4 separate regions of the Homo sapiens genome follow, and all the other regions are reported to be linked to region 1. The links are microRNA targets in miRTarBase. Many come from high-throughput screens and were not tested one by one. Region 1 holds a microRNA gene; each other region holds the end of a gene's coding sequence.
Evidence for each region. The annotated mature microRNA hsa-miR-1277-5p reads AAAUAUAUAUAUAUAUGUACGUAU and lies in region 1 at 1,099-1,122, opposite strand. An mRNA with a match to its seed (bases 2 to 7 or 8) in the 3' UTR can be bound and repressed. Matches are read on the target gene's strand: a 7mer-m8 pairs with bases 2 to 8, a 7mer-A1 pairs with bases 2 to 7 and ends in A, and an 8mer does both.

Region 1 (3,170 bases):
TCAGCCATGTACAGAGCGCTATACTAAAAGAATATAAAAGCTGTTTGAAATATACCATATAAATATGATGTCTGCTATAAACTAATATTGACATTGTATCTTTCCAACCTTTTTAGACACATCTTGTTTCAATTCTTGTACAGGGGACTCATTTCCAACTTTGTATGCAGTGTTCTCTGTTTCCTGTTTGAAAAAGAAAAGAAATAGAGACCAAATGATGACATCTTTTCTTTAAAAATATGCTTTAAAGGGGTACAAATGAGAAAATGTAGCATTAATAAATCAAAGGCCCTTAAAGGGCTTTGATTTCTTCTTCTTCTTTTTTTTTTTTTTTTTTTTTTGAGACAGAGTTTTACTCTGTCACCCAGGCTGGAGTGCAGTGGCACAATCCTGGCTCACTGCAACCTCTGCTTCCCGGGTTCAAGTGATTCTCCTGCCTCAGCCTCCCGAGTAGCTGGGATTATAGGCGCGTGCCACCACACCTGGCTAATTTTTGTAATTTTAGTACAGACAGAGTTTCACCTTGTTGGCCAGGCTGGTCTTGAACTCCTGACCTCAAGTGATCTACCCACCTCAGCCTCCCAAAGTGCTGGGATTATAGGTGTGAGCCACTGTGCCCAGCCTAAAGGGCTTAGATTTCTGAATACTGATAGATGCTCAGAAATTTTATGCCAAATGGGACAATGTAATTTGCATAAGAAAGTTACCCATCAGCAATATTCTATTATTCTGCAATAGGATATTTACCTTTAAATGTGAAAACTTGCTCAACTTTTTAACATTAAAAAACTGTAATGGACGATAAGAACTTCTACGTACTTTTATAGCTAAAAAGGATTAAGGATTTAAGCAAGGGGCTGAATAAAAATTGTTATTTTCCCCAAAGCATTGCTCCATAAATATGCACAAATACAAAAGTTTATAACACAGAAAACCACATTCAGGGAATAGTTTTCTTAAAATTCTACATGCTTTAGATAAAAGAAATCAAGACTTAACCAGAAGTTAAATGAAGCCCCTAAAAAAACTATGAAAAAAGATGAAAAAAATTAAACCCACCAAAAATACATATATATCTACGTATACATTTATATACACATACGTACATATATATATATATTTGGGAGGTTAGAAATGGATACTGCATTTCTGCTGGAAAAAATTAGGGTAAAATAAGACAATCATATATTTGCAAATCTCAATACAATACTCTTCTCAATCTTAAGTTGTCTATTTATAGAAGCACAGCAATTTGAATGCTACTCTTGATACTGAGGAAAAAAAACCATAATTCTTTGTGCACATCACAGAGTTTGTTAGAGGAAGGTCATTATAACCATTTTAGACAGATAAAGGACTCAAGGCACATTAATTATTTAGGTGGCACTTATACAAGTATCAGGATATGATCACAATAGGCTCAATAATGAAATTACTCCAGAGATTATTAAAATGTTAAAGATTTAACGTGCCAGTGAAATTTCTGTAGGACTTGCAATATCTTCGAGCACTGAATTCCTCCCCCAGAATTTGGAGAATACTACCAATCTTACACAGATTCTTCTAGAAAAAAAAAAATGTTTCATGGACTCTTAAGTATTAGATAAAATCCAAACAGTACCAAGGCCCATGAAGGCCTAAACATGACATAGCCTCTGCCTACATTTTTGATATCTTCTACACTCCTCATCTCCCTCTCATATCACTCCCCCACAATTACATTCTGGCCAATAGGATGATTCCTTGCCATTAGGGTCATAGCTCAAGTGCTATTTTATCAGAAAATACTTCCCTGACCATCTCAAAATAGCCTTAGCTGACTCCTTAACTTTCTATCACATTATCCTATTTTTCTTTTTTTTTTTAACTTTAAGTTCAGGGGTACATGTGCAGATTTGTTACACAGGTAAACTTGTGTCATGGGGTTTTGTTGCACAGATTATTTCATCACCCAGGTATTAAGCCTAGTACACATTAGTCATTTTTCCTGATCCTCTCCCTCCTCCCACCCTTCACCCTCTGATAGGCCTCAACATGTGTTGTTCCCCTCTATGGGTTCATGTGTCCACATCATTTAGCTCCCACCTATAAGTGAGAACATGCAGTATTTGGTTTTCTGTTCCTGCATTGATTTGCTAAGGATAATGGCCTCCAGCTCCATCCATGGCCCTGCAAAGGACATGATCTCGTTCTTTTTTATGGCTGCATAGTATTCCATGGTGTATATGTACTACATTTTCTTTATCCAGTCTATCATTGATGGGCATTTAGGTTGATTTCATGTCTTTGCTATTGTGAATAGTGCTGCAATGAACATGTGTGTGCATGTGTCTTTATAATAGAATGATTTATATTCCTTTGGGTATATACCCAGTAATGGGATTGAGGAGAGGATGTCAAACTATCCCTGTTTGCAGACAACATGATCTTATATCTAGATAACCCATAGTCTCAGCCCAAAAGATTCTTAAGCTGATAAACAACTTCAACAAAGTCTCAGGATACAAAATAAATGTGCAAAAATCACTAGCATTATTATACACTAATAACAGCCAAGCAGAGAGCCAAATCAGGAATAAACTCCCATCATTTGCAATTGCCACGAAAAGAAAATACCTATGAATACAGCTAACTAGGGAGGTGAAAGGAGAACTACAAACCACTGCTCAAAGAAACCAGAGATGACACAAACAAATGGAAAAACATTCCAAGCTCATGGATAGGAAGAATCAATATCGTTAAAATGGCCACACTGCCCAAGGCAATGTATAGACTTAATGCCATTACTATTAAACTACCACTGAGATTCTTCACAGAACTAGGAAATTTTATTTTAAAATTCATAGGGAACCAAAAAAGAGCCTGAATAGCCAAGGCAAATCCTAAGCAAAAAGAACAAAGCTGGAGGCATCATGCTACCCGACTTCAAACTATGCTACAGTGCTACAGTTACCAAACAGCATGGTACTGGTACAAAAAGAGACACACAGACCAATAGAACAGAATAGAGAATACAGAAATAAGACCGCACACCTACAACTATCTGATCTTCGACAAACCTGATGAAAACAAAGAATGGGGAAAGGCTTCCCTACTCAATAAATGGTGCTGGGAAAACATTATCCTATTTTCCTTCATTGCACTTATCGTTCGAAATGACCTTATTTACT
Region 2 (3,170 bases), not on the chromosome of region 1:
TGACCAACAAGGTGAAACCCCGTCTCTACTAAAAATACAAAAATTAGCCAGGTGTGGTGGCACGCACCTGTAATCCCGTCTACTTGGGAGGCTGAGGCAGGAAAATTGCTTGAACCAGGAGGCAGAGGTTGTAGTGAGCCAAGATCTTGCTACTGCACTCCAGCCTGGGTGACAGAGGGAGACTCCATTTCCAAAAAAAAAAAAAAGAAATTAATTATCTCATTTCGATGTAGTAAAAAAAAAATTTTCTTTAACATTCTTCATAAAATGTGATTAAGGCTATTAAATATAAAGCTTGGATGAGGGTGCAGATAATTTTACAAAACAGCTGTATTTTGGCAAATATTTTATTATTATAAATGAAAATACAGAGTTTTAAAACGGCACTTAATCTGTTCTCTCTCTCAGAGTCTGCCAAATAAATCAGATTTCTTGGAAAATATTCAAACTTGATACAATGGAGGCAAAATTAACTCTTGTCAGGTAAGTCATTTGCCATAAACGAAAGGACCCATAACTGCATTAAGCAGAGAGGGACTGACTGTCAATGAAGCTTCTCTATTTGCAATTTATTCAGCAAAAGCGAACAATTTTTAAAAAGTCTCTAATGCAAAATTTAGTTCAAGTATCAAAGGTCTGATCAATTTTAAAAGGCATTAGTTTTATTTTTAATAAATTGAACTGGCCTTAGATGAAAGATATAGTTCTGTTCACATATTTTATACATTATTTACAGAGAAATGAAAAATCCTGCTGCCTTTGTTATCACTTGTCATTTGCGAAATTCTTACTAAAATAAAAGAAAATGGAAAGATAATTTGACCTCTGACTTCCAGGAGAATGTTCAGGCCACATCTAAAATTTACCAAAGAATGGGGAAAAAACTTTTTTCAAGTTGGAAGGTACCAGAGTGATTAGCTGGTCTAACCTACTCATTTTACAGATTAGAAAACTGAGATATGGCCGGGCGCGGTGGCTCACGCCTGTAATCCCAGCACTTTGGGAGGCCGAGGCGGGCGGATCACGAGGTCAGGAGATCGAGACCATCCCGGCTAAAACGGTGAAACCCCGTCTCTACTAAAACTACAAAAAATAGCCGGGCGTAGTGGCGGGCGCCTGTAGTCCTAGCTACTTGGGAGGCTGAGGCAGGAGAATGGCGTGAACCCGGGAGGCGGAGCTTGCAGTGAGCCGAGATCCCGCCACTGCACTCCAGCCTGGGCGACAGAGCGAGACTCCGTCTCAAAAAAAAAAAAAAAAAAAAAAAGAAAACTGAGATACAAGGTCTTGAGATGCGGCAAATTACTCAACTCTTCCTTGTATTGTAATTAAACTGAGACTAACACCAAGTCTCTTGCTGTTGTTGCCAATTCTTTTCTCTGAACCGCACTTTGTACATCCTCCACCAAGATTAAGAATCATTACCTATGGGAAAAGGGGTGGGCATCAGGAAGAAAAAAAGATAACGGGTGGGAGTGGGGGAATGTGGGATAATGTTAGGAATGCTGTATTCAACGATGAGCCATATGTATTAATACATAATTTCTTAAGAAAAATAATTTTTTTAAAAAATCAAACCTTAACATTAACAGAACCAAATTGCAAAGATCAGAAATACCAAAGTGAAACTGAATGTTAGTACTGAAATTTAAGCTACATTTAAAAAAAAAAGGCTGTCAAACCAATGAAAACTAGATTTCAGTGTCTGTCTCCTTTTAGTGACTAGTTCTATATATTATGTTTCTCTATATCTGGAAAAATGTTCTTAATATAATACACGTGCAGTCTGAAGTAATTTCAGTTCTCAAGTTTATGAAAGGATTGGGTTTAAAAAAATACTACAAAAATATGCACTTATATTTCCAAAATTATGTATTTCTAACCTCTGCAGTGATATAAGGTCCAAATTTTCACCGTTGAACCGCCTTCTTGCATGGTGTTAAACAGTTATTTCTACAGAGCAGATATAATTTGCATAAATCTTTTTTTTTGGGATGGAGTCTCACTCTGTCGCCCAGGCTGGAGTGCAGTGGCGTGATCTTGGCTCACTGCAAGCTCCACTTCCCGGGTTCACGCCATTCTCCTGTCTCAGCCTTCCCAGTAGCTGGGACTACAGGCACCCTCCACCACGCCCAGCTAATTTTTGGTATTTTTAGTAGAGAGGGGTTTCACCGTGTTAGCCAGGATGGTCTCGATCTCCTGACCTCGTGATCCGCCCGCCTTGGCCTCCCAAAGTGTTGGGATTACAGGCGTGAGCCACCGCGCCTGGCCAATTTGCATAATTCTTTACAGTAAAACCCATTCAGAAATAGTAACTACTTGTATCTACCATCAGAGCTGAAAGAAACAGATTTCGTTAAAAAAAAGTATAGGGGTGGGTCAAGGCATTTTTTTTTAGAAAAATATACTGTATATAGTACATCTCGGAAACTACACAGACCATATGTTTTATTTAATGTGAAGGCACAACTTTAACATTAAAAGCAAAGCGTTTTAGTTATTTATGATGTAACTGTCAGTACCAGCTCATAAAAATATATTTTTGCAAGCATATCATTGAAGACTCTTTCAGATTGTCAATTCAAAAGTCAATTTAAAAAGTCGAAGTCTATTTGTAGAAAATCAATGACACATTATAGCAGTTCCACATAATATTATTGCTGGACAATCTGTTCACCAGATATCACAGGGTTTTCTTCATTTGTTGCACAATCCAAATGGTCCATCATCTAGGCATAAATAAAAGACGTTAGGAAATGCAAAATTTCAACTTGCCCCCAATATTCACTACATTAGCAAAAGGATTCTTTTTCTAAAAAACACAGATTGCTCTATGAAACTGAGCACTCCTTCTGGAGCACTGTTCTGGTTCAACATCCACACTTCTAAGGAGATAGTCAGGGTGACACTGAACCTCTCAGGAAGCCTAATCACATGACTCAAAGCCAATTTGTGTTCTCTGGATCTTCCGTTATCTCCATTTCCCAATATGAATACTGCCCTTCATGGCAGTGAGAACTCCAGAACAAAAGGAAGATATTCCTGACACTTATTCCAGGACACTATTCCAGGCAGTGTCCAATCATACAAATGGGAAAACTAAAAATGGCCTCATGAGTCACTGTGAGAATACCTGCTGACTCTGGGACAGTGTGATATTATTGACACCTTGA
Region 3 (3,170 bases), not on the chromosome of region 1:
CAGAGGCTTAGATTGGAGGGTAAGGAGGGAGCTGATAGTGGGAATGGAGGCGGGATCAGATCATGAAGGCCAGACCCAGGGGCTTTGATAGTGCCTATAGGCAATGGGCTACGGAAGGACTTCAGCAGGGAAGGGCAGGATCAGATCTGCATGATGAAAGAATCCCTCTGGAGCCAGGGTGGGATGGAGGAGAAGGAGGCTGGGGCAATAGCTCAGGTGAAACAAAATGGAACTTGAGCTGGACCAGGAACCTGGAGAAGAGGGCGGTAGAAATGGTATTTAGGGGGAAGAATAGACAGTGTTTGATGAGGGACTGACTTGAGTAGACGGGGGGAAGGTACCACCATGTGCTTGGGTTCTCAGCTCTGAGAGGCTATTACTGAAATGGGGGGACCTGGGAGGACGAGGTGACTGGGGAGGAAAGCTCCTTCACTCAAATTAGGACGTTGTATTTGTGAGGTGCTCAGGGGACAGACTCCAAGGAGGGAGAAGTCTAGTTCATTTCTATCCCACCCAGCCCTCCTGGTTTGAGGAAGTCATTTAGAAGACCTAGATCCAGCTAGTATCTTCTGATGAGGCCAAGGTTGTCTTGGCACCAACCCTATTCTCCCACTAGACCCAAGAATCTGGCCCTTGCCCCTCTCCGAGAGTCCTCCCCCGCTTTTCTTTTTTATTTTTTTGTAGAGACGGGGTTTCACCATGTTGGCCAGGCTGGTCTCAAACTCCTGACCTCAAGTGATCCGCCCGCCGTGCTCGGCCGCCCTCCTCATTAAGAAAGCACAAGTCCTTCTTTTACCTTTATATTGATATTTAAAAGAAAAAGAACATGATGGATACGGGAATGGGGGAAGGGACAACGGTTCTACGATTAACAACAGGAACTGATAGGAACCAGAAGCTCCAGGGATTTAAAAAAAAATAAAATATATATTTATACATTTATATATATATATATATATATCACGTTATGTATGTGAGTCCCAGACAAGCAGGAAGCAGCAGCAAGAAGCAACTAGCACACAGAAACACCCGTGCGTGTGCACTACACATTCAAGCAAAGCCATTCCTCTAGCTAGGACGCAGCAATCCCCACCCTCCCACCTACGGGCAAAAGAGAACAGCTGAAAACAAACTTCCCTCTTTAAGGGCCACTCAGTAATTTTTGTCCTCATGGCCAGGAAAAAGAAAGAAAAACAAAACAAAACAGAAAAGGTCGATCTTGCCTTGAAAGCGGGCAGTGGCTATTTTCTTCTCTCTGCCAAAGCAGGACACGTTATTCTTAACACAGAGGGCCACATCGCTGTCCCTCACAAATACTTCAGACAGTTGTCTTCAACATCCTGTGGTTCTTCGTCCGATTCCTTTTTTTTTTTGAGATGGAGTCTCGCTCTGTCCCCCAGGCTGGAGCACAGTGGTGCCATCTTGACTTACTGCAACCTCCACCTCCCGGGTTGAAGGGATTCTCCTGTCTCAGTCCCCCCAAATACCTGGGATTACAGGCGCCCGCCACCACGCCCGGCTAATTTTTGTATTTTTAATAGAGACATGCTTTCACCATGTTGGCCAGGCTGGTCTTGAACTCCTGACTTCAGATGATTGCCTGACTTGGTCTCCCAAAGTGCTGGGATTACAGGCGTGAGCCACCACGCCCGGCCCCGACTCCTTCTTTTTTTTTTTTTTTCTTTTTGATACCACAGAGAATAGTTGGGATGAAAGGCATCCAGCCCCTGCTTCCTTTAAGATGGCCTCTAGGCAGTGGGTGTTCTGTAAGCCTGGCAAAAATTCTGGAGCCAATCTCTGGCAAGGCTGAGTGCCAGGCGGGGCCTAGGGACCCAGGGTCGGTGCTTAAAGCCTCCCGCCCATTGGAAATTACTGACCTCCAAATATATATATATATATGTTTTTTAATTTAAAGGGGAAGTACACTGCACACCTTCCTCCACTGGGAGAAAGAGGGCCCAATCCCCAGCTACCCACCCCCCACCCCCCAAACACACACACACACACACACACACACACACACGTACACACTGACTAAGGCACAGCGAGGGTGGGCAGGCATGCTTTGGCAATGGGGCCCCTTGGGGGGCTGTGGCATGGACGGCTGCAAGGGGTGTGGATGTGAGCTCAGCACCTTTGGAGGTGGGTGGAGGCAAGGAGAGAAAGAAGTCTCAGGGCTCCCAAGGACACAGGAGAAGGTGCTTGCAAAACAGGCAGATAAGAAAGCCGACAGGCAACCCAGAAAAGAGATGAGAAAAAAGAAGAGTGGAAAAAGAGAAACAGGCTGGGTGCGGCAGCTCACACCTGTCCTCCCAGCTACTTGGGAGGCTGGGGCAGGAGAATCGCTTGAACCCAGGAGGCGGGGGTTGCAGTGAGTCGAGATCGCACCACTGCACTCCAGCCTGGGCCACAGAGTGAGAATCCGTCTTAAAAAAAAAAAAAAAAAAAAAAGAAAAGAAAAAGAGAAACAGCTCAGGGGTGAAAACAGGATGTGGGCAACAAAACAACACAGGAAGGAAACAGCAAGAGGAAAGGGAAGGAAGAAGATGCATCCAAGAACTGGTTAGAGTGCAAGGAATTGGGAAGGAAAGAAAAAGGTGGGAGGGAGGGGAGACAGGAAGAGGAAAACAGAGGAAAGGCGGAGGAAAGAAGTACTCCATAAAGAAAACTCGGGCAAGAAGAACAAAGAGGTTGGAGAGGGAACGGGAGCCTCTTGGGAGAGTCTTAGACCTTGACAAAAACCAGGTGGGCAGAGTGCACCAGGTCAGCCACATACGCCAGTAGGTTGATGGCCGTCAGGATGGCCACAGCCAGTCGGCGGTCCCAGGCACACACGTAGTAGGCATGGCTGCGGCTGCAGCTTACATCTCTCGAGCGCCGAGGCTGGCCGCCATACTTCTCATCGAACTGGTAGAGGGGCCAGAGAACAAGGGCGGTGGCATAGAGGAGGACAGACAGCAAGGCCAGCCCCGACAGGAAGCTGGGGAAGGGGATGGGTAGCACGTTGGTGCACTCCCCCAGGTTCAGCAGGATGGCGATGGCCGCTAGGATGAAGCAGATGGCGTACACCGCCACGCACCACTCCAGGGCCGGCTGGTGCTGGTACAGGTTGGGGTCGCTGATGAACGCGAAGATGATGCAGGCAACGAAGGTCTCCAGCACCTTCAGCA
Region 4 (3,170 bases), not on the chromosome of region 1:
ACCTCCGCCTCCCAGGTTCAAGGGATTCTTCTGCCTCAGCCTCCCTAGTAGCTGGGATTACAGGCATGTGCCACCACGCCTAGCTGATTTTGTATTTTTAGTAGAGACAGGGTTTCTCCATGTTTGTCAGGCTGGTCTTGAACTCCCGACCTCAGGTGATCCACCCGCCTCGGCCTCCCAAAGTGCTGGGATTACAGGAATGAGCCACTGCACCCGGCCAGTTCTGCATTTCTTAAGAGAATCTTTGTGAGAAGATGTAGATATTGGCTTCATAATAATAAAGTGAATTTGTGGTATTAAATAAATGGAAAAAAAGACAAACGGTACAAATTAAAAGTTCTTGAGATGTTTGGGCTGACCATGAAGGGATCCATTATCTGAAGAGTGGCTTAAGATTTAGAAGGCATAGCTCTACAGTCTCTTTGTCTTCTAAGGGCAGGGCATCTTCTATCTTCTAGGACAGGGTACAGTAAGTCTTACCAAACATGTAAGACATGTTATTTGGGGATATTCAGCATTCCTTTTCCCTTCCTAAAGGTACTCAGGTTTCTTTCTCAGAAATTGTATATATTCATCCCTGAAAGGTCTGAGAAAAAATAAAAAAAAATTGTGTATAGTTTTGGTGAGATCGTCAATCCAGGAACCTGTTTCCCCATATTAAAGTCAAAGGAACTATACTGTTTTCACTGCCAGGCTGGGGACTCTTAGTACCTAAGTTTGGTCCATTCTACTCTTTTTCATGACTTTGAATCTTGAGCAAATGACTACAGTAAGAGTGGGGTTCATTCATGTCATCAACAGCATCCCAGCTGTATTGTTAAAAGTACCTGTCATTCTTAGTTCCCACCCAGTCTTAATCCTGGTTCTCCAACTTTCATAAAAATCGTTGTTTTTTTTTTTTTTTTTTTTTTTTGAGACAAGGCCTCACTCTGTTGCCCAGGCTGGAGTGCAAGTGGTGTAATCTGGGCTCACTCCAACCTCCACCACCTTGGCTCAAGTAGTCTTCCCACCTCAGCCTCCTGAGAAGATGGGACTACAGGTGCACACCTCACCTGGCTAATTTTTGGATTTTTTGTAGACAATGGGTTTCATCATGTTGCCTCAAGAAAAATAACATCATGGTAATACTAAGTCTTTTATCAGTGACATGTAACTGATTTTAAAATATTATATAGTGCTTCCTAGTTTAACCAAACTGGAGGCATGTTTTATATGATGGGCTGATGTCTCATGAATAACTGTGCCAAAATCCTCACTTCTGAGTGCACTGATGCAGTAGATGGATGTCTCAGATCCCTCAGCTCCCAGATTGGGCCAACTCTCCTTATACCACCACACCTGGGACCTGGGAGGAATGGGGAAGGGGACTTTATAGGGCAGAGCTTTCCCAGACTCTTGTTCCACCCTAAGGATAAAGTATTACAGTAACTTTCTTCCTGCCTTCCAGAGGCACTTTCATTCTTCCTGGAGCTCTCGTCAACCCTGACCTCTTCCTTTGTCAGCAAGGTCAAACGCCTGAGCCACAAGTCTTAGCTGTTTCCAGAAGGGTGATTGTGTGCTCCCACCTATATCTGAGGTCCTAGACTCCTCAGAGGAAGTCAGCTTCATGTGATCTAGGTTACTCAAGCCTGGGGCTAGTGTTTTCATATTCTGGTATGAGAGACTTGCTTCCTCTGGAAAGATCTTTATGGTTTACACAAATGTAACAGACCACTTAACAATAGCTAGTCTCTAAAATGTACATCTTAAAATGGCTTTATACTTACGGGAATTCCTAATTAAAAAAAAAACTCACTTGATTTATATCACATTGTAAAATATAGTTTACTTCAAAAGATGATCCTGAAGATCCCATCACAGAGTGTTTAAGGGATGATTATAAACTTTTAGCCCTTAAGAGAGAATATATATACTCAACTGAGTACTGTCTTTCAAAGCAGTCCCTGTCAGTTTGTCCATTGATTCCATAGCAGCTCTCACTGCCCACCCTGCTTGAGAAGCCTCTTGGAGTTGCCTAGAGAGTCTATAGCACTCATCTGAAGGCCCTCCATGAGAACAACTCTTCTCTTCCACATAGATATTTTTGCATCAGCCCAAAGCTATTTGGACACAAGTTTGGTGAACACGGTAAGAAAAAAACAAACCAAGCAACAAAAACAAAAAGCAGGCAGTGCTGTGTTAGACTGAAAGTAAAAGATAAAAACTCTAAGAACCTATGAAGCGCCAGGGCAGTGCTGGTTGCTTTCACCCATATGGTCTCCTTTGGTGTTCTGCTGGTGCTTATGAAGCAGTATCCCTACTGACAATGACCCTAGCTTAAGAGGGCTGAGAACTGCTGAAAGTGAAGCTGTTTATAAATGGTACAGTCAGGACCGACAGACACATGGGTGTGGTATGACTGCAAAGTACCTGTGGAATTCAGATGGGATTACCATCCCCACTATAAAGGGCAATATGATCTGTTGCAGGAGGGTTTATAGGGTACTTAGTTACACAGGTCACACTGATCCCCTTTTCCTCTTTTTTTCTATGCAAGTATCTATTTGTCTATATGTCTGTCTACCTTGGTAGGTTGGGCTCCTTGAAGAAGGGTTATGTTTTCTTCATCTCCATATCCCCAGTAGCTGGCCAATGCCCAGTATACACCAGGGGCTCAGTCGCTGTTTGTCTTATTTTCTTGTTGACTCTACTCTGACTTAGGACATATCACTTTCCTCTCTTGACCTTCACATTCAGATGTGTTAATAAAAGTGGATAAAGACCACTCTAGCTTTAAAACACCCTCCAATATAGAGAGAACTCTGAAACCAGAAGCAGAAGCTGAGGAATGGTGAATAGAGCATTTTCCCTCACACGATGGGTATCAGGGTGGTTTCTTGTCCTTTCAATGCCTCTGCAGAACTTGACCCTAGTTTTTCAAATTGGACTCAAGAATGATCTTAGTGTTGGTGGTTTTGTGGTTTTCTTTGAGACTTTGTTATTGACAGAACAGCTTCTGGAAATCTGAAAAGAAAAAAAAAAAGGTAGTTTATATATTAGTTTGGAATATGAAATGTATTTTGTCATGGTCTCCAGAGTCCGAATATTGATCTCTGTGGAGCTCTCCTACCCTCTGCTACTGCTGATAACTCATAGTACTGGAGAGATAGCAGAGCCTGAAGACCAAAAAA

Region 2: miRTarBase lists SPPL2A as a target of hsa-miR-1277-5p. Seed matches in the 3' UTR shown: 7mer-m8 at 2,531-2,537 and 7mer-A1 at 1,764-1,770.
Region 3: the mRNA of MYADM is a reported target of hsa-miR-1277-5p. Seed matches in the 3' UTR shown: 7mer-m8 at 1,883-1,889 and 7mer-m8 at 923-929.
Region 4: the mRNA of FAM120AOS is a reported target of hsa-miR-1277-5p. Seed matches in the 3' UTR shown: 7mer-m8 at 1,903-1,909.

What each region holds. Positions count from the first base shown.
Region 1 is chrX:118,384,353-118,387,522 of GRCh38, reverse strand. It overlaps MIR1277 (microRNA 1277), which reads right to left and starts at 1,129; the gene lies at 1,052-1,129. It overlaps WDR44 (WD repeat domain 44), which reads right to left. Exons shown (of 20, transcript NM_019045.5): 3 at 109-183.
Region 2 is chr15:50,705,149-50,708,318 of GRCh38, forward strand. It overlaps SPPL2A (signal peptide peptidase like 2A), which reads right to left. Exons shown (of 15, transcript NM_032802.4): 15 at 1-2,726. The coding sequence ends at 2,652. Among named protein-coding and RNA genes, the nearest start is that of TRPM7, 20 kb to the left of the region's middle.
Region 3 is chr19:53,874,053-53,877,222 of GRCh38, reverse strand. MYADM (myeloid associated differentiation marker) reads right to left here. Exons shown (of 3, transcript NM_138373.5): 3 at 788-3,170. The coding sequence ends at 2,725. Among named protein-coding and RNA genes, the nearest start is that of MYADM-AS1, 6.5 kb to the right of the region's middle.
Region 4 is chr9:93,444,695-93,447,864 of GRCh38, forward strand. FAM120AOS (family with sequence similarity 120 member A opposite strand) reads right to left here. Exons shown (of 3, transcript NM_198841.4): 3 at 1-3,003. The coding sequence ends at 2,917. Among named protein-coding and RNA genes, the nearest start is that of FAM120A, 5.4 kb to the right of the region's middle.